Linked DNA regions of Homo sapiens. The protein of the gene in region 3 purifies or fractionates together with the protein of the main gene of each other region. This does not show direct contact. Each region holds a gene or a part of one and is shown on either strand. Other genes may lie near its edges. The genes, in order: MR1, ZBTB25, VEGFD, FCSK, ZNG1B, PTPRU and F10.

Evidence for each region.
Region 1: the proteins of VEGFD (region 3) and MR1 purify together in Homo sapiens (affinity purification with mass spectrometry; one large-scale study listed by BioGRID and IntAct). This does not show direct contact.
Region 2: the proteins of VEGFD (region 3) and ZBTB25 purify together in Homo sapiens (affinity purification with a luminescence readout, with the first as the bait; one study listed by BioGRID). This does not show direct contact.
Region 4: the proteins of VEGFD (region 3) and FCSK purify together in Homo sapiens (affinity purification with mass spectrometry; one large-scale study listed by BioGRID and IntAct). This does not show direct contact.
Region 5: the proteins of VEGFD (region 3) and ZNG1B purify together in Homo sapiens (affinity purification with mass spectrometry; one large-scale study listed by BioGRID and IntAct). This does not show direct contact.
Region 6: the proteins of VEGFD (region 3) and PTPRU purify together in Homo sapiens (affinity purification with mass spectrometry; one large-scale study listed by BioGRID and IntAct). This does not show direct contact.
Region 7: the proteins of VEGFD (region 3) and F10 purify together in Homo sapiens (affinity purification with mass spectrometry; one large-scale study listed by BioGRID and IntAct). This does not show direct contact.

What each region holds. Positions count from the first base shown.
Region 1 is NC_000001.11:181,054,483-181,057,982, reverse strand, and holds part of MR1 (major histocompatibility complex class I-related protein 1 isoform 1 precursor), read right to left. Parts: intron 2,759-3,500; coding exon 2,718-2,758; 3' UTR 1-2,717. UniProt on the Homo sapiens protein: Antigen-presenting molecule specialized in displaying microbial pyrimidine-based metabolites to alpha-beta T cell receptors (TCR) on innate-type mucosal-associated invariant T (MAIT) cells.
Region 2 is NC_000014.9:64,479,839-64,483,338, reverse strand, and holds part of ZBTB25 (zinc finger and BTB domain-containing protein 25), read left to right. Parts: 3' UTR 1-3,500. UniProt on the Homo sapiens protein: May be involved in transcriptional regulation.
Region 3 is NC_000023.11:15,363,914-15,367,413, reverse strand, and holds part of VEGFD (vascular endothelial growth factor D preproprotein), read left to right. Parts: intron 1-3,500. UniProt on the Homo sapiens protein: Growth factor active in angiogenesis, lymphangiogenesis and endothelial cell growth, stimulating their proliferation and migration and also has effects on the permeability of blood vessels.
Region 4 is NC_000016.10:70,453,103-70,457,394, reverse strand, and holds the start of FCSK (L-fucose kinase), read right to left. Parts: upstream 2,801-4,292; 5' UTR 2,765-2,800; intron 1-2,764.
Region 5 is NC_000002.12:113,436,282-113,440,490, reverse strand, and holds the start of ZNG1B (zinc-regulated GTPase metalloprotein activator 1B), read right to left. Parts: upstream 2,801-4,209; 5' UTR 2,623-2,800; coding exon 2,469-2,622; intron 1,472-2,468; exon of another isoform or gene 1,420-1,471; coding exon of another isoform or gene 1,374-1,419; intron 1-1,373. UniProt on the Homo sapiens protein: Zinc chaperone that directly transfers zinc cofactor to target metalloproteins, thereby activating them.
Region 6 is NC_000001.11:29,278,022-29,281,521, reverse strand, and holds part of PTPRU (receptor-type tyrosine-protein phosphatase U isoform 1 precursor), read right to left. Parts: intron 2,511-3,500; coding exon 2,401-2,510; intron 2,067-2,400; coding exon 1,865-2,066; intron 1,484-1,864; coding exon 1,381-1,483; intron 1-1,380.
Region 7 is NC_000013.11:113,143,299-113,146,798, forward strand, and holds part of F10 (coagulation factor X isoform 1 preproprotein), read left to right. Parts: intron 1-552; coding exon 553-797; intron 798-3,500. UniProt on the Homo sapiens protein: Factor Xa is a vitamin K-dependent glycoprotein that converts prothrombin to thrombin in the presence of factor Va, calcium and phospholipid during blood clotting.

The DNA.
Region 1 (3,500 bases), on a different chromosome or scaffold from region 3:
GCTAGAGTGCGATGGCGCGATCTCGGCTCACCACAACCTCTGCCTCCCGGGTTCAAGCGGTTCTTCTGCCTCAGACTCCCGAGTAGCTGGGATTATAGGCATGCGCCACCATCCCCGGCTAATTTTGTATGTTTGGTAGAGACAGGGTTTCTCCATGTTGGTCAGGCTGGTCTCGAACTCCCGACCTCAGGTGATCTGCCCACCTCGGCCTCCCAAAATGCTGGGATTACAGGCATGAGCCACCGTGCCCGGCAGTATTTTTTTTTTAATCATCTCTTTATATTATGATTCTTTTAGTATTATAAAATCCCCCAGGAAGAAACATAAATGCTACAAGTGCATAACAGAATGTTTTGTCATCACATCCTTGTCCTTGCCTCCTCTTCATCCATTTGGACATATTATGTGTTAGGTGTAGGGCAAGGCCTTGGAAACACAGAGGCTTTTTATCTGTGTCTTTGATGAGAGTATCCTGCAGTTGCAGAATCAAAAGGCATTTACATAGATACATTATCACCTGTGTCTATGTAAATATGTACCTTTTCACTTTAAATGCCCACCCAAAAATATATTACATCCTAACTATTCTGATTGTAAGAAGAAACCATTCCAGAAATAAACTTGCCTACATTCTCTTCACAGTGCAACACTGCTTAAAAGTGGCACGGAAATTGCCCATGGCAACCCTAAAAACAAAATAAACACAACTGTGCTTCTATGCAACTCAACAGGCACCGGAAAAGAGAGATGTACAGTGGTAGCTTCATATATGGAATTACATGGGACAGTGGAGCAAGGAGGAAGCCTGGCAGGTGAGCTCTTAGAGGCCTGGCACACTGAGGGTATCTTTCTTTTTTTTTTTGGAGACAGAGTCTTGCTCCGTTGCCCAGGCTGGAGTGCAGTGGTGTGATCTCGGCTCACTGCCACCTCTGCCTTATAGATTCAAGTGATTCTCCTGCCTTAGCCTCCCAAGTAGCTGGGACTATAGGCACATGCCACCATGCCCAGCTAATTATTTGTATTTTAGTAGAGACAGGGTTTCACCGTGTTGCCCAGGCTGGTCTTGAACTCCTGAGCTCAGGGAATCCGCCTGCCTCAGCCTCCCAAAGTGCTAGGATTACAGGCGTGAGCCACTGTGCCCGGGCTGAAGGTACCTTTATCTGAGGCTGTAATGATTAAAGCCAAAGGTCAAATGTCACAGTCAAGGTCAAGGGAGAGCAGAGGTCAAACCTGAGGTGCAGGACAAAAGCCACTTGTCAAAGTTCAGGTCACTGAAGTAAGCATTAGGGCTCAGGTGCAGAGTCAAACGGGGTCAGAGAAGTAGGACCGAGGAATGTGTGACTGGCAGCCCCAGGGCAAGTAGCTCCACATGGCAGGGCAGTAGGTGAGGCCTCAGGGGTTGGGGATAGTAAGGAACATTAAGGGGATGTTCATTCTCACCATGGGCTTTTATTGATTCCCAGTGCATATGTATGAAGACAACCTATGTAGGAAGGCAAGTCATGCCCAGCTACCATGAGCCAGCACAGGAAAGGCAGAAATGAGAATTGAGCCCTCTCCTGACACCAAATATACTGTTATTATTATTATTATTATTATTATTATTATTATTATTATTTTGAGATAGAGTCTCACTCTGTCGCCAGGCTGGAGTGCAGTGGCGTGATCTCGGCTCACTGCAATCTCTGCCTCCCGGGTTCAAGCAATTCCCCTGTCTCAGCCTCCCAAGTAGCTGGGACTACAGGCACGCAACACCATGCCCAGCTAATTTTTTGTATTTTAGTAGAGACAGGGTTTCACCATATTGGCCAGGATGGTCTTAATCTCCTGACCTCGTGATCCGCCCGCCTTGGCTGCTCAAAGTGATGGGATTACAGGCGTGAGCCACTGCACCTGGCCATACTGTTATTTTTACATTAAAATAGTGCAGCTGGGTCCAGGTCTCTGTAGTTCCACTGGAGGTGATGATATGTCTGATAATTATTTCTCTTAATTTCCCACAAAAGACAAAAAGGGTGAGACTACCTCCATAGATCCAACCGGGCAGATTACCAAGATTCCAAGCTCCCAGGCAGGGTTGCTGTGAACAGCAGGGGACTTTGGCTTTCTCTCAGGCCAGAAAATGTATAAAAATAATCAGTCCATTCCCAGGCCATTGTAGAAACCTGCCGGCTACTCTCATGGAGTGATCCAATCCTACCTGTAGGGTCACAGTCATGGTGCCCATGATATTCAAAGCGCTTGTACAATAAATGTTCCCATGAAAGATGAATGAGAAAGGCCATTTTATGAAGTACTGAGGTTCCCTTCACATGGTGTTCAAGTGGAGGCTGGAGGCTCAAGTCCAAGGCATTGCAGAAGACAGTTCCTGCTCTGGTTGAAAAGATTCCTTCCTGCTCTGAGAATCTCCAACTAGTTGCAAATCATCATTGACAAATAGAATGTAGGGAAGCGTTGTGTCATGAGACAAGCTGTATTTAAAGTCAACTCTGATAAAACAGTCCATCAAAAGAGACTGAAAGCTGACAGTCTTTTTGGAGCCAAAGAACAAAGAACATTTTGTGGCTCCTCTGTTGCTGCCATAAATGCTCAATCCCATTACTCTCATGTATGTTGTGGGTGTCGTCAGGACCTTCAAGCACTAGGCTTGACTCTATGGGGGACAGAGGATAACATGGCTCCTAGAGGAAGGAGAACTGGAAAAGAGGGATCTGCAATCATCGATCTGGTGTTGGAAGGTAGATGGCTCCATTTTGCTCTGAAAGGAAAGGGGTTTTTAGTCAGATTACAAGAATGTTTCCTCACAGCTCAAAAATAAAGTATGCAGTGTTCAGCAAAATCTGAGAAACAGGCATCGACAGTTTTAGCTTGCTTTGTCAAGATTCTCTTAGTACTTGACAAACTTTAGCTCAAATTTGTAAACTCTATAAGATAAAAAGCAGGAACTCACAGTCTGTATAATTATTGAGAGAGGGATGTCATTGTAAAAAAATTTTTTGTTTGTTTCACTATCATTTATTGGATTAGGATTAGTGCTGTACTTTATCTATAAAGAAAACATTAACAACCCATTAACTCTCTGAGCTGATTTTCTTTTCTTTTCTTTTCTTTTTTCTTTTTTGAGACAGAGTCTCGCTCTTGCTGCCCAGGCTGGAGTGCAATGGAGCGATCTTTGCTCACGGCAACCTCCGCCTCCCAGGTTCAAGCGATTCTCCTGTCTCAGCCTCCTGAGTAGCTGAGATTACAGGCATGTGCCACCACGCCCAGCTAATTTTTTTTTTTTTAATATTTTCAGTAGAGGCAGGGTTTCACCATGTTGGCCAGGCTGATCTCGAACTCCTGACCTCAAGTGATCCGCCTGCCTCGGCCTCTCAAAGTGCTGGGATTACAAGTTGTAAGCCACCACGCCCGGCCTCTGAGCTGATTTTCTAGTAAAAGGGTTGGTTTTACTTTGATCTAACAACATGCTTTTGTACAGTTATCACCTGAATTGGAGTTGA
Region 2 (3,500 bases), on a different chromosome or scaffold from region 3:
ACCACTGCACTCCAGCCTGGGTGACAGAGCGAGACTCCATCTCAAAAAAAAAAAAGTTCTTCCAGCTAAAACCTTTATTTTTTGACTACATCTCCACAAAATGGAGCTATACTGTTAGCCAGTATCCTAATAGTATAGTGCAGTTTGCATAATGATTACCAAGCTTGAAACTGGAAATGTCATATGCACTTTCGTGTGTATCAGGCAGATACTAAACATTTTCCCCTTGAGTCAGCTTAAAATTTTTCCTTCTTTTGAAATCTCACGCAGTTGTTTTCTGGAGAAAAATAGAGACTGTTTTAGTATTTGTTCTTATTAGCGTATCATCAGAACTCAGCACAGTCTGCCTTATAAGAAAACAAAAAATTTTTTTATTTATAACTCTTGAGATTGTTACTTCTTGCTCTTTCTGATTTCCCATCCGTAAAGTGGGTGTAAGCAATACTTACCTCACAGGGGTGTTGTGAGGATTTATATTAAACGTGTTAAGTTCTCTCAGTATTATTGATTAAAATCAACCATATAAACGACATTTATTCTGTAGCTAGACCTATTAACTTTAGTATTTCAGCCTATAAATTCTAAAATGTTCTTAAAAGCAGTAATGTACTATCTAATATTCAATAACTAATTGACAGAACTCATTGTTATTTTTTACAAATAACTAGAAACAATACTGTTGCTAGAATTCCTGTTCTACTGTAATTTAATCATCACTGTTTCTTTTTAGCCTTCAGTAAGGAGGATACTAGTTCTTTGGCATTATTGGGAATAAAACTTTGTCAATTTCAGCTTTATTGAAAGTTCTCCCAAATATATTGTTTTTGTTTACACAAAGGAAAAGGAACAAAAACAATAAATAAATACCTTTGTTTTTTTTTCTTTTTTGAGACGGAGTCTCGCTCTGTTGCCCAGGCTGGAGTGCAGTGGTGCGATCTCGGCTCACTGCAACCTCCGCCTCCCAGGTTCAAGCGATTCTTCTTCCTCAGCCTCCCGAGTAGCTGGAACTATAGGCACGCACCACCACACCCAGCTAATTTTTGTATTTTTAGTAGAGATGGGGTTTCATCATGTTGGCAAGGCTGGTTTCGAACTCCTGACCTTGTGATCTGCCTATCTCAGCCTCCCAAAGTGCTGGGATTACAGGTATGGGCCACTGGGCCCAGCCTATTTTTATTTCTTTGATGTAGGTGATCTAAATAGTAGATGAGGACAGGAAATGGGGTGAAGGTAATAATAGTATTATTAGAAAAGTCTTCACTGAAAATTGAAGGAAATACATATTAATCGTGGAAAAAGATAGTGTGAAAAATGTGTAATTTCGTTAACATTTATTTGTACAGGCACATTCTTGATGTTGTGAGTCAGATACTTGATAAATGTCCATTTTTTGTAGTAATTGATGTAAAAATGGGCCATGTGAAGAATTTTCATAATGTAATTTGTGTCTTTGTATATTTTGAACTACATATAGATTTGTGGCACTTAAATTATTAATTTTTGATTTCTTAAGAGTGAAGTCTGTAAATGATTTCTCTCTGCTGTACTTCTGTGTTTGTATGGTTGGACATTTTGAAAACTGGTGAGATTGCACAGTCCCAAACCTGGATGTCTTAAATACAAGGAATTACAAACTGTGATTTTTGTCTTGAAGACCTGGAAGAATTCATTGTGCTTCAGTATGTATTTGTACTGCACTTGATTAATTAGTTAAGTATTGGTCTGGTGCAATTGACATTAACTGTCATCAACTCCTCTATTTTGTGCTAAATAAAGTCATTTAGTCAGAATGGATCAAATATAAACTTATACTTTAAAATAAACTTAGATTATAAAAACTTGTTCAATAAAAAAGACCCACTGAAAAATCTTCAAAGTACATGTAACACATAGCTAATACAGGAGACCAAAATCAATAATACATTGTGTGGCTAAACTCATCCACCTAATGTACTGTGAATTTGCTTCAGAAACATTCTTTTAGAAAGTTGTGTATCTGCCGGGCATGGTGCCTCATGCCTGTAATCCCAGCACTTTGGGAGGCCAAGGCCCAGGAGTCCGAGACCAGCCTGGGCAATATAGTGAGACCTCATCTCTGCCAAAAATTTTGGCCAGGGGCAGTGGCTCACGCCTGTAATCCCAGCACTTTGGGAGGTCGAGGTGGGCGGATCACCAGAGGTCAGGAGTTCAAGATCAGCCTGGCTAACATGGCGAAACCCTGTCTCTACTAAAAATACAAAAATAAGCCAGGTGTGGTGGTGCGCGTCTGTAGTCCCAGCTACTTGGGAGGCTGAGACAGAATCATTTGAACCCGGGAGATGGAGGTTGCAGTGAGCCGAGATTGCGCCATTGCACTCCAGCCTGGGCGACAGAGTGAGACTCCGTCTCAAAAAAAAAAAGGCAGGGTGTGGTGGCTCACACCTGTAATCCCAGCACTTTGGGAGGCCAAGGCGGGCGGATTATGAAGTTAGGAGATCGAGACCATCCTGGACAACATGGTGAAACCCTGTCTCTAGTAAAACACAAAAAATTAGCTGGGTGTGGTGGCACGTGCCTGCAGTCCCAGCTACTAGGGGGGCAGAGGCAGAGGAATTGCTTGAACCCGGGAGGCGGAGGTTGCAGTGAGCCGAGATTGCGCCACTGCACTCCAGCCTGGCGACAGAGCAAGAAACAATGAATTTCATATATTTTATCAAGACAAATTAATGTGACTTAATCAAAAACAAGTTTATTAGCTTAGCTTATAGAATGTGTTCTTATTTTACATCAGTGTTTGCCAAATGTTGTGTTCCTAGTGTTGAGGCAAGTAGTCTTTGTACTGGGTAACATTTTGGAGGTGTGATGCAAAAATGCATTTGTGGACCTAATTCTTACCGACCATAATCTGTGTTAATCGAAAATTGACGTCCTAATCAAATGCTTTCCAACTGCTGTCTCTGGAAAGAAAGGTAGTATTTCGTCATTTCCCAGAAGTTTCTTGCTTTGCTTCTTCTTTTTTTTTTTTTTTTTTTTTTTTGAGATGGAGTCTTGCTCTGTTGCCCAGGCTGGAGTACAGTGGAGTGATCTCGGCTCACTGCAACCTTCACATCCCAGGTTCAAGCTATTCTCCTGCCTCAGCCTCCCGAGTAGCTGAGATTACAGGTTCCCACCACTACACTCGGCTAATTTTTTGTATTTCTAGTAGAGACGGAGTTTCACCATGTTGGCCAGGCTGGTCTCGAACTCCTGACCTTGTGATTCACCTGCCTCAGCCTCCCAAAGTGCTGGGATTACAGGCGTGAGCCACCGCGCCCAGCTGCTTCTTTCTTCTCTATTTACAGTCTACTGTATCGCCTTTTGCCCCCAGTAACATGATCCACAATAGTAGTTCTCAACTGAGGTATATTAGTCAGGATTCTCCAGAAAAAGAAAGAAACAACAGGTAGAACTGAGAGAGAGAAAGAGATTGATTGATTATAAGGAATAGGTTCATGTAATTATGGAGGCTGAGAAGTCCCAAG
Region 3 (3,500 bases):
CATTAGCAATTGTTCAGTTTCATCTCCAGATTTCTTAGATGAAGAAGCTGTGGCAAGCCAATTTCACAAACCCGATCTATGATCCTCATGCTCCCCACTCCTCTCACTCCCACAATTTTGCCTTGATTCAAACTTTATCGAAAAGTGAGAAATCACAGGTATGAGCTCACTGAGCTTCCCAGGCAGTCTTGCCATCTACAAACCCATGTCATTCTGTATTTTCCTCTTGTTTCTGACAGTGATCCTCTCATCTAGTCACACTACATCCACTTATCTCTGGCACTTATGTCAAAACAACCCCTCTAGGTCCTGCCTTAGCTCTCCTGCATATGCTTTTTCTTTCTTCCTGTCTGTTGCCTCTTTCCCCCAGCTTATAATTCTCCCGCTTTTATTAAAAACATGCACCCACAGACACACACTCACATCTGGATTCCCAAGTGCGATAACCTTGTAGATTCATATTTTCAGATCGTTCTTAGTCCACAGAATATAAAATTGATTGAATGATGGCAAACATCTGCAGATGACAATCATTTACAGAAATGGCACTAAAGCCATGAAGCTGAAGCTGCAGGACTTATGGATCTGGGCTAGAAGACAGGGGCCATCAAAAATTTAGCTTCAGTTGGAAATCGGCTCTTTTAGTGCACTACATCAGATCCATGAAAGAGGAAGGAAGAGTTACTGCTCATTGCTGCCTGGAGCTGTGACTTCTATGAAATTACTTAACGGGGCAAAGGAGGAAGCAGATACTTCCTTGCAACTAGGACGTGAGCTGAGCTGATCCCTGAATCATAAATACTCAACAAGATTCGGATTCAGGACCCAGGGTATTATGGGGTACAACCATAAAACTTCTAAATGTTGGAGAAAGAATAATGAGAAAGAAAAATGAATCTCTGAATGAAAATGGAACTACTAACCAAAATTCCAAATCACGTTAATATAATTATTACTAAGAATGACAGCAACAAAATGAATAATCAGTATATGTCATACCTATAAAGTTAAAATCTAAAATAATTTGAAGAAATACTTAAAAATATTTGCAACCCTCAAAGAGATAAAGAAATAATATTCATAAAATTGAAATGACAAACTAGGGGCAGGGCGCAGTGGCTCACGCCTGTAATCCCAGCACTGTGGGAGGCCGAGGTGGGTGGATCACAAAGTCAGGAGATCGAGACCATCCTGGCTAACACGGTGAAACCCTGTCTCTAATAAAAATACAAAAACAAAATTAGCCGGGCGTGGTGGTGGGCGCCTGTAGTCCCAGCTACTCAGGAGGCTGAGGAGGGAGAATGGCGTGAACCCGGGAGGTGGAGCTTGCAGTGAGCCGAGATCGCGCCACTGCACTCTAGCCTGGGCAACAGAATGAGACTGGGTCTCAAAACAAACAAACAAACAAACAAACAAACTAGGAAGAATATACAGAAATGTAACAGAAAGTAGATAGGAAGAAGAATGAAGTAGAAATGCTTGAAATTAGAAATACGGTGATTGAAATTAAAACCTTAACAAAGTAAACTCTAGACTCACAACAATTGGAGAGTTGGTGATTGGAAAGATGAACCAATTAATTTACCCATAACACATTAGAGAGAGGTGAAGAGGAAAAAATAGCTAAATATAAAAGCACATTTAAGAGACATGTAAGATGATTAAAAGCCTCCAACATTTTTCAAAAAAGAGAGTAGAGGCAATATTATAGGTGGAATAATGAAAATGATAATGGCTGAGAATATTAAAGAATTGAGAATAAAAAAGACAAGTGGCCTCAGATTGAAACTGCCATGAAGGTCTCTGTCTCAAATTCTCAACTCTGCTTTTGTAGTATGAAAGCAGCCGTAGACAATAAGTAAATGAATGGACATGGCTGTGTGTCAATACAACTTGATTTACAAAAACAGGCAGGCAGCAGGCTAAATTAGGCTGGGAGGTCATAGTTTGACAGCTCTTGATCTAAAGAATAACCATTGTTGGCCAGGCGCAGCGGCTCATGTCTGTAATCACAACACTTTGGGCGGCCAAGGCGAGCAGATCACTTGAGCCCAGGAGTTCAAGACCAGCCTGCGCAACATGGCGAAACCCCATCTCTACTAAAAGTACAAAAATTAGCCGGGCATGGTGGCAGGCTCCTGTAGTCCCAGCTACTTAGGAGGCTGAGGCAGGAGAATCGCTTGAACCTGGGAGGCTGAGGTTGCAGTGAGCGGAGATGGTGCCACTGCACTCCAGCCTGGATGACAGAGCCAGACTCGGTCTCGAAAATAAATAAAGAATAACCTTTGTTTACATTTTCATGTATATGTCTCCAGATGTTCCTCATATATCCATATAAGTATGTATATATGATGTACATAAGTGCATAAGTAAAAATACATAAGTAATTTTAAAAGAGGTTATATCATAGCTGAATCACACATGACTTAGACCACACTTGCTCTTCTGAGTACCCATTTTTGGACAACTCTCAGTGTCCACTAGCATGTCTAAAAAAAATTTCTCCTCCTAAAATGCTAATGCATGATGTAGATTTTAACTACAGCTTTTGAGGCTCAGTGGAGGAGAGTGTACATCACACTACCCAATGCAAAGCCTTTTAACAGCCCCTTTTGCTCATCTTTGTTTTCCTTCACTGTTCCTCGCCCTGCAGCAGGCAGCTGACATTCACCTTTCCCTTCCACCCTCCTCTCTCAGCACTGGTCCTTTGCCTCCTCCCTCATCCCAGCTCTACAAATGGCCTCAGCCTGCATATTCCAACCACCCAGCAAAACAAACATCTAGTAACTACCGGGTCAGCAAGAGAAAATCGGAGGCCCTAGCCATAGATAGATCACCTTATCATTTCTCCAGCACATTCCAGGAAGGATCTCAATTCGTTCTGTCCCAATATACCTCTACATCCTTTGTTTTGATGATCACATAGAATTCATTGTATGCATATATCATTATTTATATAACTAAGCCCCCAATTTTGAACAAGAGGCTACATACTGAAAATCTTTTATCTACCAAGTCTTTTTTTTCTTACAAACCCATCCAATACAGTTGCACTGTATCCGCCAATACAGTTCATGCAACTGTATGGAAAGCAAACTCTAGAAGAGTATTTGATAGCTCCATAAGAATATTAAACTCTTATACTTCTAGAGCGTAAAACCCCAGAAAAGTATTTTGTCAGAAAAAAATCATGTTTTTGAAATAGTAGGTTTTAAAAGAAAACAAAGAGAGTTAGAAGTAAGAAAATTCAGGTTATCAGGGGCTTGATATCTTTTTTTTGTGACTGTAGTCAGGTTACCCAGGCCTTTGTGGATCAATTTCTCAAACAAATAACAGAGATGAAAACAACTGTCAGTAGCTACTGTCACAAAAATAATATGATAAACATCTTTTCGTTTCCTATGGCTGCCATAACTAATTATCACAAACTTGGTGGCTTAAAATAACAGAAATGTATTTTCTCACAGCTCCAGAGTCCAGAATTCCAAAATGGAAGGGTC
Region 4 (4,292 bases), on a different chromosome or scaffold from region 3:
TAGTCCCAGCTACTCAGGAGGCTGAGGCAGGAGAATCACTTGAACCCAGGAGACGGAGGCTGCAGTGAGCCAAGATCACGCCACTGCACTCTAGCCTGGGCAACAGAGCGACTCTGTCTCAAGAAAAAAAAGAAATGCCCCAGAGAGTCCAATGGCCCAGAAGTTCTGAGCCCAGTCTTCATCTCAGCATAGTGATAGAGAGACATGGGCAGGTGACAGGTCATGGCCAGAGTGGGGAGAGTATCCCTTACTAATGACAGGGGCAGAGGAACAGTCCTGGGTTGCGTATCAGTCCCAAAAGGCTCTGTCCCCATCTCTACCTCTTCCTGCTTCCTGTAGGATCCTGAGCAAGTTACTTAATCTATTTTTTTTTTTAAGATGGAGTCTCGCTCTGTCACCCAGGCTGGAGTGCAGTGGCGCAATCTTGGCTCACTGCAACCTCCGCCTCCCAGGTTCAAGCCATTCTCCTGCCTCAGCCTCCCGAGTAACTGGGACTACAGGCGCGCACCACCATGCCTGGATAATTTTTTGTATTTTTAGTAGAGACGGGGTTTCACCATGCTGGCCAGGCTGGTCTCAAACTCCTGACCTTGGGATCCGCCTGCCTCGGCCTCCCAAAGTGCTGGGATTACAGGCGTGAGCCACCATGCCCAGCAGTTACTTAACCTCTCTAAGCCTCAGTTTCCTAATCTGAAATTTAAGGCCAAAGACATCAACCTCCCAGGACTGTTTTCAGCATGAAATACAATGTAAAGTATGTGGCACACACCAGTGGCTCAATGAATGATAATCCTTCCAGCCAGGCAAGGAAGCAGGAGAGTTTAACCTGTCCCTGAAGGAGGAAGGACTGGAAGCTCTCAAACATTCTCTGAGTTAAAGACTGTCCTGAAGAAGAAAAAAATCAGGGAAGGCCTCGGGAATCAAGCAAGGCTGAGGGACATCCCCTGAGAGATTAACAAAAAAGGTAAAATGATACAAGTAGCTAATACATATGGAGTGCTTTTTCAGGCACTATGGCAAAGGCACATCAGTGTCACTTCATATGACCCACCCAACAGTCCTAAGAATTGGTTCTTATCTCACTGAAGCTCTAGACAAGAAAACTGTAGTTTAAAAAGCAGAAACATAGCTATTAGGTTGGTGCAAAAGTAATTTTGGCTTTTGCCATTGCTTTAATAGCACAGGCAGGCTAGGCTTTTGTTTTGTTTTGTTTTGTTTTTGAGAAACAGGGTCCGGCTCTGTCACCAGAGGGCGGAACGCAGTGATGTGATCACAGCTCACTGCAGCCTCAAACTCCCGGGCTCCAGCGATCCTCCCATCCCAGCCTCCCAAGTAGCTGGGACTATGCATGAGTCCTGCTAGTTTTTTATTTTTTGTTGAGATGGGGCCTCCCTTTGTTGCCCAGGCTGACCTACAACTCCCGGACTCAAGTAATCCTCCCGCCTTGGCCTTCCTAAGTGTTGGGATTACAGGTGTAAGCCACCATGCCTGGCTTTTTTTTTTTTTGAGACAGTCTCCCTCTGTCGTCAGGCTGGAGTGCAATGGCGCGATCTCGGCTCACTGCAATCTCCGCCTCCCAGGTTAAAGTGATTCTCCTGCCTCAGCCTCCCAAGTAGCTGGGATTACAGACGTGCACCACCACGCCCAGCTAATTTTTGTATTATTAGTAGAGAGGGGGTTTTGCCATGTTGGCCACGCTGGTCTCAAACTCCTGACCATAGGTGATCTACCTGCTTCCGCCTCCCACAGTGCTGGGATTACAGGCGTGAGCCACCTCGCCCGGCCTTTTTTTTTTTTTTAATTAATAGTTTGCTGGAGTTACACAATCTCAAGAGGTCCTGAGAAAGTGTGCCCTAAGGCCCTAAGGTTCTTTTGTTGTTGTTGTTGTTGGTTTGTTTTGTTTTGTTTTTGAGACGTAGTCTCGCTCTGTCGCCCAGGGTGGAGTGCAGTGGCGTGATCTTGGCTCACTGCAACCTCCATCTCCTGAGTTCAAGCGATTCCCTCGCCTCAGCCTCCCAAGTAGCTGGGATTACAGGCATGAGCCTTGGCGCCCAGCCTCTACCCACTTTCAATACAGCCTCATCTGCTGAGATCAAGTTGAAATATTTTTTAGTGTCCTCAGCCCCACGCTGTCCAAGACTGGGATAGGGTTGGGGAGCCAGAGATAGAATAAAGTACTAAGAACTCTTCATATGAACCTTTTGAAGACAGGTGGGTCAGGGACTGCACATTTTAGAACTTTAAAGAGGAAAAAAAGGCTCACGGAGGACTCTGACTTGCTGCCTTCTAAATAACAGACCGAAAGAAGTTACTTGGGAGTAAAATCGTTTTGTAAATTACCCAAGAGCACATCATTGAGATTTGTGCATAATACTGAGCCCTGGCCGGGTAAACTGAGAGAGGAGAAGCGGCCTCAAAGTAAAATCAGAGCAGCGCCGGCATCCAGGGCCCCACCTGCCTCAGGGTGAGGATCCTCTGAGGCCCGCATCCCTCCCGGTCCCAGCTGCCAGCAGGTCCGGCCGCACCAGCCGGGTCGCGGGGCTCCCCTTGGAAGACCCAGGCCAAATGGACGCGGGAGCGTAGAAACACCTGTGGGCTCCCGGGGCACCGCAGAGCTCCCGGGGACTCTTCCCTGTCAGGACCCGGGCGGCCCGCGGGTCGACTCGGTGCTCCCAGTCAGGGAGGGTGCACCGGAAAGCTGAGGGGGCGCAAGGGGCGCAAGGGGCGCAAGGGGCGCTGCGGCGACCCTCGCGGACTGACGTACCTGCCGTCGCCCGGCGCTCGGCGGAGCGGGCTCTTTAACGCGAGGCTGCGCGACCCTCGCGGTGCACTCCGGGAAGTGTAGTTTCACCTCCGCGCCCCCCCAAGGCCGAGCCCCCGTCCGGCAAAAAACACGGTCGGAGCCACCGCATAGGCCAGCGTGGGTGGCCGGGGCAGCGCTTTCCTGAAGGGCAGCGGGGCTGCAATCCAGAAGGGAGATGGGAAGGGGGCCGCTCCAGGACCCACGAAACTACAACTCCCAGAGGACCGAAGCGCCTTAAAGACAGAGGCCCGTTTTCTGGGACTCCGGGATCCAGGTTAATAGGTTAATGTGTAGCTTTTTTGTTTGTTTTCTCGTTTGGGTTTTTTTTTTTTTTTTTTTTTAACACCTTCTGGACGGCACCAGGAGCTTCCGCTTTCCTCTGGAGAAAAATCCACTGATGGAGGAAAAAAAAAAATCACGCTTTGCCCAAGCGGAAGCAGCTGCCATTCGATTTGCAGTTGGAAAGGTTTGCGCTGGTTTCATCACGTGGATCCTTTGGGAAGAAACTTTCCAACTCCGTAATGGGGAGGGGATCTGCGGACCTTTTGGGAAAGTTGTGAATGGCAGCATTGATTGTCATAGATGACAATTGGAAATACTCTGAGTGTCTCTCTCTAGGTTACTATGTGAAAGGAAAATAAATCTCAGGACCCCAAAGTCACTAAGTCAAAGGGAAAAGTCAAGCTGAGAACTGCATCAGGGAAACCTACCTCCCATTTTATTCTTAAACAAGATAACTACAAAGATAAAAAAGCTAGATATGGCCTGGCCCTCACAACTTGCCCACTAGGAAATTCCTTGTGTGCCCCCAAATCTGTACCCTAAAACAGTTGTGTGGAATTTCAGTGACAATGTAAATTTATAGCTTATCTTCACAGGTGCTGGGCTTTGACAGCACTGAAAGTCATCTCTCAGCTCACCTGAGACAAATGCATATCTCATTGCTTCCTCTGCCCTATGTTTATTTTTTCTTATGTAAAAATGCATATTCACTGAGCTAGATGAATGCATAAGTGACTAGTCCTCTATCCCCCTCTAACATGTGAAAGGCTTATCAAAGACTCAGAAGAATGCAGCCATTTGCCTCTTACCTACCCATGCCTTTTAAAAATTTCCTCTTTCAGGCCAGGCACGGTGGCTCGCACCTGTAGTCCCAGCCCTTTGGTGAGGCCGAGGCGGGTGGATCATGAGGTCGGGAGTTGAAGACCAGCCTGGCCAATATGGTGAAACCCCGTCTACTAAAAATACAAAAATTAGCTGAGCGTGGTGGCGCGCACCTGTAGTCCCAGCAGCTTGGGAGGCTGAGGAAGGAGAATCGCTTGAACCCGGGAGGCAGAGGTTGCAGTGAGCTGAGATTGCACCACTGCACTCCAGCCTGGGCAACACAGTGAGGCCCTGTCTAAAAAAAAAAAAAAAATTCCTCTTTCCCCAATATCTGACCTTTCCCCTTTAAATATTGAAGCCCTCAAAATCATCTTTGGAGAAAGGT
Region 5 (4,209 bases), on a different chromosome or scaffold from region 3:
AGTATAGAATGGGAGAGACTTAGGGCAATGAGGAAAATCTTAAAACCAGTCCAAGCCTGAGACAGAGGCCCTGAACATGAGTGTTTCACAGGGCAGTGATGTGAAAACTGAAAGGAAAGGGTGAATGTAAGAAATCTTCTAAGAGAAGATTTACTAGGGCTTTTTAACCATATTATGAAAAAAAAAACACTTTAAGACATAGCTCATTCATTCGAAGGTTTCTAATACGTTACAGATTTATGCTGAGCCTTGGTGAAAAAGTGAACAAGATAGTCTCTGCCTTCATAGAGCTTAGAAATATTAAGGGGGCCGGGCGCGGTGGCTCACGCCTGTAATCCCAGCACTTTGGGAGGCCGAGGCGGGCGGATCACGAGGTCAGGAGATCGAGACCATCCCGGCTAAAACGGTGAAACCCCGTCTCTACTAAAAATACAAAAAATTAGCCGGGCGTAGTGGCGGGCGCCTGTAGTCCCAGCTACTTGGGAGGCTGAGGCAGGAGAATGGCGTGAACCCGGCAGGCGGAGCTTGCAGTGAGCCGAGATCCCGCCACTGCACTCCAGCCTGGGCGACAGAGCGAGACTCCGTCTCAAAAAAAAAAAAAAAAAAAAAAAAAAAATTAAGGGAAGGGGGGAATGGAGGGGAATTCAGTGAATAAGGAGGCAATTATGTCACAGGGTGACATATTCAATAGGAGATGCACAAAATGCTATGGAGAACCTAAGAGGGACATCTAGCCAGAGGAGTCACAGTAAAAAAGTACCTATTCCAAGGGGCTAAAACACTTGGCACCTTTGAAGTAACATTAGTTCATTGTGCGGGGCCAATTTGGCAGGCTGGAAAGGTTGGCAAGATCCAGATGCTACAGGTCCTTGTAATTCATGTTAAGGAATTTGGATTTTAACCCATAGGGATGCCACTGAAAGGTGTGACGCAGTCGGATTGACATTTATAAAGATCATTAAGGCTAACATGCAACGAATAAATTAAAGGGCAGCAAGACTCCAGATTAGTCAGGAGGCTTTTAGAGTATTACAAATGGTTGGGATCACAGAAGCAGGATTTGGGGGGATGGTAACAGACGAAGTTTCAGACATGTTAAGTTTTAAGTTGTAGGACATCAAAATAGAAATTACACAGGTGTGTAGCTAAAGATGGACAAAGGGGGAAGGAGGAGGGAGCCTTAAAAAGAAGCCAGAGAAGCAGGTGGAAAAATCAGAAGAAAAATGTAATAGAAGCCAAAAGAACAGTGTTTCAGAAAGGGAAAATGGTCAGGGATAGGAGTGAAACTATCCCTAGATTCAGCAACAAGGTTGCTGGTATTAATTCTCACTCCTGAGCTTCAGATCATTTTCTCCAGTGATCTACTGACCTACCAGTGAGCAATACGGGAAAGGCCCGAGCGGCACGTTTGAAATACATTGTTTTGGACAAGAAATTTGTTCATCTTCTCAGCAGAGCAGCCTCTGAATAACTGTGGGGAAACGCCAAAAATAAATTCCTTTATAAAATTACTTCCGAGCAAAAAACGGGAATAAACTTACAGTCTACAAAGTTTTTTAAAAAACAAAAGCAGTTATTTCTTATTTTTACATAAAAGGTCACGAAGTGGCCCAAGTCTGTACCTGTCTCTAGCAACAACTAGGAATATTATTTCCCGGAAACAGTATCATTTTATTTACATTTCTTAACTTTTTCCAAACTTCTAATACAGTCATATATTTGTTCTAGCCCTTCTATTTAACTGTAAGGTTTAAAAATATATTTCTCAAACTTTTCCAGTAAGAAACTTCTAGTGTAAGTGCATAAACCGCCCTTCACGAAACTACCAAGTTCACAAACTTGTGGTTTCGAGTATCCCTGTACACTCTAAACGTTCTTAGTTTGAGAAATAGTCTTGGAGGACAGAGATTTTATTCTTACTTCCTACGCAGTGGTTTACAAACAGACCTCAAAAAAAAAGTGTTTAAGATAGGAGCGCTCCCTGCCAACTGGCTGGAGGACTTTGGCTCGTGGGGAAGGGGAATCTACTGACGAAAGCCCCACGTGTCGGGCATTTTACAGACGGGACATCCTTTAATGGCAACAGGTAGGTGGTTCCGGCCCTGTTTCACAGGTGACAGGTATTTCTCCATTTTCAGGTGAGGTAGATGAGCGTCAGGAAGGTAAGATAACTTGGTAGGAGGTCACAGAGACAATCAGGGGGGCGTGTCTTAGCGTCAAAGCCTTGTTTCAAAGGCTAACTTTCCATCTCACTTGAGAAATGGGAATCTAACGCAGAGGGGGCCGGGCATCATTAACTCCCAAGATGAGAGGCAACCCATACGAGAAGCAAGTGACCCAGCCCCTACCTCGAAGACATTTGCTCTTGATCATGAGGCCCCAATGCCTCAGGAGAAGAGGCACCGGCAGCCCGCAAAATCCCATGACACCAGAGGTCACGCCATTTTGTGACTGGGATGGTTAGTTACCTAAATACCCGGTGATAATTGTGACTGGGATCTTGGCGCCGAGGCCAGACTTTTCCTCCTCCTCGCTTTGCGTCGTCTCCATGGGAACCAATTCAGGACAATCCTCCTCCGCAGGATCCTCCTCCTCATCCGCAGATCCAACAGCCGGTAACATTCCGGCCTACAGCACGTCCCTACCTCAGCTGAACCGCTGGGACCAACACGCCGTACCGCAGCCGCGCACGCCCAGCACGCCACTCCCGGCCTGCCCGGGGCCTGACGTCATCACATCGCGACGCTCGCTGATCCCGCCCGGATTACCTGGGCTCTGGACGAGAAGCGCCTCGTCCCTTAGCCACACCCCCCGGGGAGGTGGGCTCTCCCCGACGACAGCTGGACACGCCCCTGGGCGTGTTCTGTGAACCTGAGCGACGCTGCGGAGAGTCCTTAGGGCGCACTAACCACCTGTCTGAAGGTGTCACTGGCGCCTAGAGCCTTAATAAGCTACTGGCTGTAGGTAGAGCTGAGGCCAGCCTGCTGGAAATCTGGAGTGGGTAGCCTGACCTAACCAGTTCCCACAGGGCATAGATTTTATCAACTTGATTTTTTAGTCTCGTTAAAAGAAAAAGTTTTAATTCATAGGGGAAAGAATGGAAGGTTATAACATTACAATTTTAATTGTAATTTTTATACCTGAAGGATAACCAGTGACAATTTTTTCTTTTTTTATTATTACATATTATATATGTAATTCCAAATTTTTAGTATTCATGCATCACTTTTATTTACTTTTTTCTCATTATTTATTTGGACCTCAGGTAACCTAAGTTCATTAATCGTATTTGCTGGTGCATGACACTCTCATCACTAATCCATAGATAGCCCTTCTTTCTAATATAAATTTATAGTGAACTCCTTTGACCTCATTCCTAACCTAAAAGCATTACCAGTAAGTTACACGTACCTATGTGCACCGCCCCTGCTTCCAATCCACAGCCTGCCCCATAAGATAGTAACAACAGTCATGAATTGGTTCTGGATTGCTGATCATTCCCTTTTAGTTTTATCACATATCCCACGTATGTACTTACAGAATATGTTGTTTAATTTTGGGTGTTTTTGAGCTTCATAAAATTATCCATATAATATATAAACTCCTGAGGCTTGCTATATTTTTCAGCATCACTGCTGTCTTGTATTCTATTGTGTGGCTACACGGCAATTTATTCATTTCCTCTCAATTGTTCCAGGTTTTGCTCTTATGAACAGGGCTGCTATGAACATTTTTCCTGACATATGTGTGTGCAACTTCCTCTTGAGTGTCTGTGTAAGAGCTGAATTGCTGGGTCCTAGATTATTCAAATGTTTTACTTCACAAGAAAATGCACAATTATTTTTCAAAATGTTTGTACAAATTGATACATTTTCCCAGCAAATTATAAGAGATCTCATTGGTCTGTTATGTCAATATTATCAGGCATGCATTTTTCACCAATCAATTGAGTACAAAAGAAGACTTCATTGTGATCTTCATTTGCATTTCCTTGATTACTAACAAGGTTGAGAATCTTTTCATGTGTTTTGGCAATATTTAATTCTTAGAATGACCCTGTAGAGTGTTATCCCTCTTTCAAACATGAGGCACCAAGAGTTAAGTTACTTGTCCAGGTTAGGTCATAAAAATCTATCTGATGCACAAGTAGAATGTTTTACTACTATCCTGATGCCAAATAAAAGGTTGACTTTTCCTTCCTTCTCTGAA
Region 6 (3,500 bases), on a different chromosome or scaffold from region 3:
ACATGCCCAGGGTCATGCAGCCATCTTGCCGCTCCCCTCCCACCAAGCCTGCCCCCACCTAGCCTTGCAATCATCATCCTGAGGGACCCTGACCAGTGCTGCTCACAGGATCCCTCAAGAGGACAAGAAAGAAAGGGTTCCCAACCCATCCCAGACTCAGTGGCATAAGGGCCCTGAGGCTCTAGCAACAGGCAAAAGGCCCTGCAGACCCCGTGACTTTTTCCTGGGTCTTCCCTGAGGGTCTGGGAATCAGCCCAGGGCAGGATTTGCAGTGGCAAATACAGGGAAGACAAAGCAGAAGAGGAGAGGATACAGTGGGGAGTGAGGAGGTGAGGGACTGCCATGGTCACCCAGGCAGCCCACTCTCTTCCTAGGGAACTGACTAGGACCCTCACACCCCCCCCACCTAAAGGCTGTCACCCTCTCCCAGAGCATGTACCTTCGTGGAAGGAAGGGGTGGACCAGAAGGGCAGGGAGGCTCTATAACTTCTAGAAAAGGTACAGGCACAGCAGATAGACCTGGCTTCCAAATCCCAGCTCCACCACTTACTAGCTGTGTGGCCTTGAGGGCAAGTGATTCAGGCTCTGAGTCAGTTTCCCGATATGTAAAATGAAGGTAATAATACCCATGCCACAGGGCTGCCATGAGGATAAATGGCTTCATGCAGATAAAGCCCCTAGCACGGGGTCTGGCTAACAGTACGTGCACACAGTTGCACAAACACCCTCACACTCTCACACACATGCACACTTATGTCTCCCATATACGCCTCTCACACACACTCACACCACACATCCCATGTCTTTATCACAAAGACACACCCAGTTTCACATCCCACATACACACACACACACACACACACACACACACAGTCTTGTCTCCAGCACCCTCTCCCCAGCAGAGGCAGCCACCACGGCACCAGCAAGCCCAGCTTCCTCTGGGGAGAGGAGGTGGAGAAGCCAAGCTCCTAGCCATTCCAGAGAGATGGCCCTATCTGGCTGGCTGCCCCAGCCTTCTAGAAAGCCCATCTCTGTGCTTCCAGGAAAAGGCTGGGATGATATAAGGCCCCCAGAGTTTCACTTCTCCAAGGTGTCTGAGGAAAGGCCCCCTGGACAGGCCTGGACAGTCCCCTCTCCAGGCTGGACCTATCCAGGGTCCTCCTGACAGTCACCATCTGAGACCCATGGCCTCAGAGGGGAGGGACTGCAGGCTTCTTGCCTGCCAAGCATCACAGAACAATCTCCTCCAGACACTCCAAGCCCTGCGTGGGAGACTGAGGGAGGAAAAGGGTGAGCTGGCCTGGGATGGGGCTCTGGGTCAGAGGAGGGGCCTCTTTCCTAAGGCCCTGGACTCCCACCCCTCCGTCCCCGCTTTCCCACCTGATGGGCGCACCGCGGCCCTGTGCCGGCCTCAGCAGCACGGTGATGGTGTTCTCAGACTCGCCCAGGGGTGACGGCATGTCGGCATAATCAAAGCTGGGAGCTGGAGAAGGGGACAGGGTCACAAGCTGGAGCTTGGCCACTGGACCAGGAAGACCAGGCTTCCAGCCTCCTTGACCACAGTCCTCAGATCTCCCCTACTTCAGCCTTAGCCTCTTTGTTCCTGCTGACATGACCTGAGCTACCCTGGCCCCTGACCTCAGGCACCAGCCCCAACCTCAATCTTCTGATTCCACTGACCAGTCTCCTGACTCCTCTGACTTCATCCTCCCTGAGCCTGACTTTAACTCCTAAATGGCATATTTATCTCAGCAGGGGCCCTCTGTAACTACCCCCAGGATGCCCCCCATTTCCCTTCTGCCCATGGAACCCTGGGATTCTGGGCCACCTCCGAAGAGGCTGGGCCGGGTCAGGTGGGGCTCACCAGAGATGTTAGTGGTTATCTCAGTGAGTGCCGCCTGGCCGAAGCCTTTGCCTGTGCGGGCCCGCACGGAGAACAGGTAGGTGGTGCCTGGGTGCAGGTTGGAGAAGACATGGTAGGTCTCATTGCGGAGCTTGGAGATGGTACGTCGTGGGCCTGGCACGTTCACTGCCGGGTCTGATGACTCGATGCTCTGGTAGCTGATCTGGGGGCAGGATTGGCAGGCAGGTGGGCACTGGATGGTCAGAGCATCCCTGACCAGCAGCCTCCACCCACCATGTCCCAGGGAAGTGAGAGATAAGGCTAAGCAAAGGAGACTATGGATGCCATCAAGCCAGGCTTCTAGTCATCTTCGGCTCTCCCTCCTGCCTTCAGGACCCTCCTCTAGAATACACAGGGCACAGACCTGGCCATAGTTGAAGAAACTATGACAATCACATCTGTCCTCCCATGCACCTCCTACTGTAGCAGCAGAGAGAAAGAGGGCCACCTCTCACCTTCCACCAGGGTCCCCCACTGTAATAGGGTCCCAAACCCACCTCATACTGGGTGATGAGACCATTGGGCTCCTGGGGCTCCTCCCACTTGAGGAAGATCATGTCCTCCAGTGGAGTGAAGGTCAGGGACTCGGCTGCAATCCCACTGGGCACTGCAAGGGAAAGGCAGCAGGGGCCAGGGGAAAGTGGGCTTTGGTGCCAGACACCTGGGTTTAAATTCCAGCCTTGCCGCTTCCTACCTGGTTCTCATGGACTATTCAGCCTCTCTGCACCTTACTTAACTCAGCTGTGAAGTGGGAATGATATAACCCCTCTCAAGCCAGGACTCAAATGATGTGATGTACATAAAGCCCCAAGGCAAACATCAGCAATTGCATATGGTTCAACCTATTACTAAGTACTCAAAATGGATAGCTGGCATTTTCATTACTGTGTAGGTTGCATTCAGGAGAGAAATACGTTTGAAGGCTCCAATTTTGTTCCAGTTGGGTAGTTTTCAGAAAATATGCACATGGGCCAGAGAAATGAAAACAGCAATTGCATTGCGGTATTGGGATTATGGGTGGCGATATTTTCTCGTCTAAAAATTTCTAATTACATAAATGACATGTTCAATGTAGAAAATCAAAATGAGCTTAAAGAAAATTAATGGCATCTACAATTGTATCACCCAGAGATACTGTTAACATTTTAGCATTAACACTTGCAGGCATGGCTTTGTTTTGTTTTTCTTGTGTAAATGTATACTGTTAATGGCAGGCACAGGAGTGTCATTTAGGAAGAGAATGATCTTTGCTTGGGAAAATACCTTGATAAACCACTATGGGGAAGCTGAAGTCCTAAGGCAGAGAAAAGCAGAAAGTAAAGAAGGAGCTGAATTTTGAATCTAGGCCAATGCTGTGCAGAACAGAAAACTGTGCACGTGCGGCAGCAAGACAAAGCCATAAACCAAGGAGCTTAGTGGTAACTGGAATCTGTAGGAACCCAGGGAAAGGCTTTGGACCTGTGATAGCATTCGAGTGTAGCTCTTAAGAAGGACAACTGGCTGGGCACGGTGGCTCACGCATGTAATCCCAGCACCTTTGGGAGGCCGAGGCAGGCGGATCACTTGAGGTCAGGAGTTCGAGACCAGCCTGGCCAAC
Region 7 (3,500 bases), on a different chromosome or scaffold from region 3:
CTGTGCTATTCCAGACGCTCTCCTGTGCCTCCAGTTGTTTGCGTGCGCCATTCCTTCTGCCTGAAAACTTTTTTTTCTTCAATGTTTCATTAGGAAAAGTTTTCCAACACACAGCACACTGGAAAGAATTTTGCAGGGAGTCGCACACGCCCAGCACTTGGGTTCTCCTGTTGGCATCCTCCGGCCAGATGCATTCATCCCATTTCGCCCGGCCCGTTTGTCTCTGTCCATCCGTCAAGCTTTCTTGACTTCTTGGTGCATTTTCAGGCAAACCGCAGACGCCAACACTCCCCTCGCTGCCTGGGTTGCTGCCTGGCGTCCATTGTTCACAGGCGGTCACCTGAGGGGAGGCCAACGCTCGGACAGCTGCGCTCACCTGCAGATCCGACCCCTGCCGACGACGTGGGGCCTCGCCCTGCAAGCCCGCTGCCCCTCCGGGTGCCCCTGCGCTCTGCCTCCCGGCTCTCTGACTCTTCTCCCTCAGGGTGAGCTGTGCAGGCTATGGGGAGCCTCTCTCTGTGCTGAAGGCCCCGGCCGTCCTCTTTCTTTCAGGGCCCTACCCCTGTGGGAAACAGACCCTGGAACGCAGGAAGAGGTCAGTGGCCCAGGCCACCAGCAGCAGCGGGGAGGCCCCTGACAGCATCACATGGAAGCCATATGATGCAGCCGACCTGGACCCCACCGAGAACCCCTTCGACCTGCTTGACTTCAACCAGACGCAGCCTGAGAGGGGCGACAACAACCTCACCAGGATCGTGGGAGGCCAGGAATGCAAGGACGGGGAGTGTCCCTGGCAGGTAACAGTAGGATGTCCCCTCGGGCCTGCTGGAGAGACCACCTGTCCCGCTGTGCACCTCGGGGAGGCCAGCCTGACACTTGGAATAGCAATCCGGGAAGGAACTGTTCCGAACTAGGACAGAGGGGCTCCGCCACCCAAGCCTGCCTGCCTGTCCCCTCCCTCCGGGCAGCCAAGGAGGCTGTGAGCTCCACAGGGAAGTGGCCGGGGCTGAGGGAGAGGCTGGGCCCAGGCAACGCCCCCCTCAGCCCCTTCCCACTGGGCATTTCCATGGCTGCCCGTGGCATGCCCAGGACGATGCTGTCCTGTGAAACAGAAGAGAGGGAGAAGGCGCAGCCACACGCTCAAGTGTCCTCAAACCTCCCCTACACCAGGAGACAAGGCTAAAGCCAGGGAGCCACCCACACTGCAGGGGCATCAGCGGGCAGGAGGACGGTGCCGGGTGGGCAAGGCCTCCATCTGCTCTTCTGTTTGACGGGAGGCAGAAAGAGTTGGTGTCCTCGCTTCATTTCTAATTTTGGAATTTTTTTACCCAAACACCTAAATCCTATGGAGGTAGATAGTACCTTAGAGAAAAACACATCTACTTATTTTCAAAGGTAAAAAAGAAAATCACTCTTTGAGGCTTTTTTGTTAAGAGACAGTACCTTGCTCTGTTGCCCAGGCTGGAGTGCAGTGTCGCGATCTCGGCTCACTGCAACCTCCACCTCCTGGGTTCAAGCGATTCTCATGCCTCAGACTCCCAAGTAGCTGGAATTACGGGCGCCCGCTACTTACGCCTGGCTAATTTTTTTTTTTTTTTGAGACGGAGTCTCACTCTGTCGCCCAGGCTGGAGTGCAGTGGCGCGATCTCGGCTCACTGCAACCTCCACCTCCCAGGTTCATGTCATTCTCCTGCTTCAGCCTCCCGAGTAGCTGGGACTACAGGCGCCTGCCACCACGCCCAGCTAATTTTTTTTGTATTTTTAGTAGAGACGGGGTTTCACCGTGTTAGCCAGGATGGTCTCCATCTCCTGACCTGGTGATCTGCCCACCTCAGCCTCCCAAAGTGCTGGGATTACAGGCGTGAGACAATGTGCCCGGCCATGCCTGGCTAATTTTTTTATTTTTAATAGAGACAGGAATTTCACCATGTTGGCCAGGCTGGTCTCAAACTCCAGGCCTCATGTGATCCACCCTCCTCAGCCACCCAAAGTGCTGGAGTTACAGGTGTGAGCCACTATACCAGGTCCTAATCTTTGATTGTTGATTTGGACTAATGCTGCCAGATTAAACAAATAAAAGCACAATACTTTCAATTAAATTTCAATTTCACATAAACTAGAAATACATTAAACAAAAGCACAATACTTTCAATTAAATTTCAATTTCACATAAACTAGAAATACTTTCAGTGTAAGTATGTTCCAAGTATCGCATGAAGCATACATATGCGAAAAATTATTTGCTGTTTATCTGATTCAAGTCAAACTAGGTGTATTAGTCAGTTTTCACACTGCTGACACATACATACCCGAGACTGGGTAATTTATAAAGAAAAAGAGGTTGAATGAACTCACAGTTCCACGTGGCTGGGGAGGCCTCACCGTCACGGTGGAAGGCGCAAGGCACGTCTTACATGGCGGCAGCAAGACAGAGAATGAGAGAACAAGCAAAAGGGGTTTCCCCTTAGAAAACCATCAGCTCTTGTGAGACTTATTCACTTCCACCAGAACAGCATGGGGAAACCGCCCTCACGATTCAGTTACCTCCCACCAGGTCCCTCCCACAACACACGGGAAATATGGGAGCTACAGTTTGAGATGAGATTTGGGTGGGGACACAGCCAAACCTTGTTGCTGGGCATCCTGTATTTTCTCTGGCAATCCTCACTTGGACTTGAATTTTCAGCGCCCAAAACCAGAATGTCCTCTCCTACAAGCAAGAATCTCAGAGCTGCCAGCGCCCCCATGAATTCCCCCAGGTCTTCCCCCACCCCAGACCGTGTGGCGGGTGAGCCTCTGTCTAACTATAAAGAGCCAAGCGAGAGAGGGATGCACTGAGGTGGCTCTGCAATGCATGTTTGTTGAGGGCCTTCTGTGTGTCAGGCACTGAGCCGGGTGCTGTGTAGGTGGGATATGAAACCATGAAGCCTCTCTGTGACCAATACACAGAAATCTCAACCTAGTTAGGGAGCTGAGACCGAAATCCTCCCAGTCCCAGGCACTGTGTGGTTGGGGCAAGAACCTCGATGCAGGAGACCCCACCGAGGATGAGCAGGAAAAGCCTCTTGTGGGGCTGAGGAGCTGGACTTGGAGCTGCAGGCGGGGTTTTGGAGGGGTTCCTGGGCTGGGGGACCAGGGTGGGGCGCCCTGGAGGGCTCACTGGAGGGGCCCTCGCCCAGCCTGTTGAGGTTTGCGATTCTTGTTTCCTGGTTCGAGTCTTGGCAAGTGGGCCTCATCTGCATCTTTAGGAAGAATGGTTGGTGTTCGTGTCTTAGAAAGCCTGACTTTCCCTCATGTAAGCTGGATGATGAGTTGACAAATTATGCAAAAAAGAGGCAAAAACATGACCCCTTTTCTAGCCATGAATGTTTTAAGAAATGTTTTAAGACTCGGTATTGTCAGTAGTTTCATTGGTCTGTACATGTGCCCAGCCACTATCACAGGACGGGAAACTCCCCAGAGAAAAGAAAACCAAAATATGCCCGGGCTCCAAACTTGCA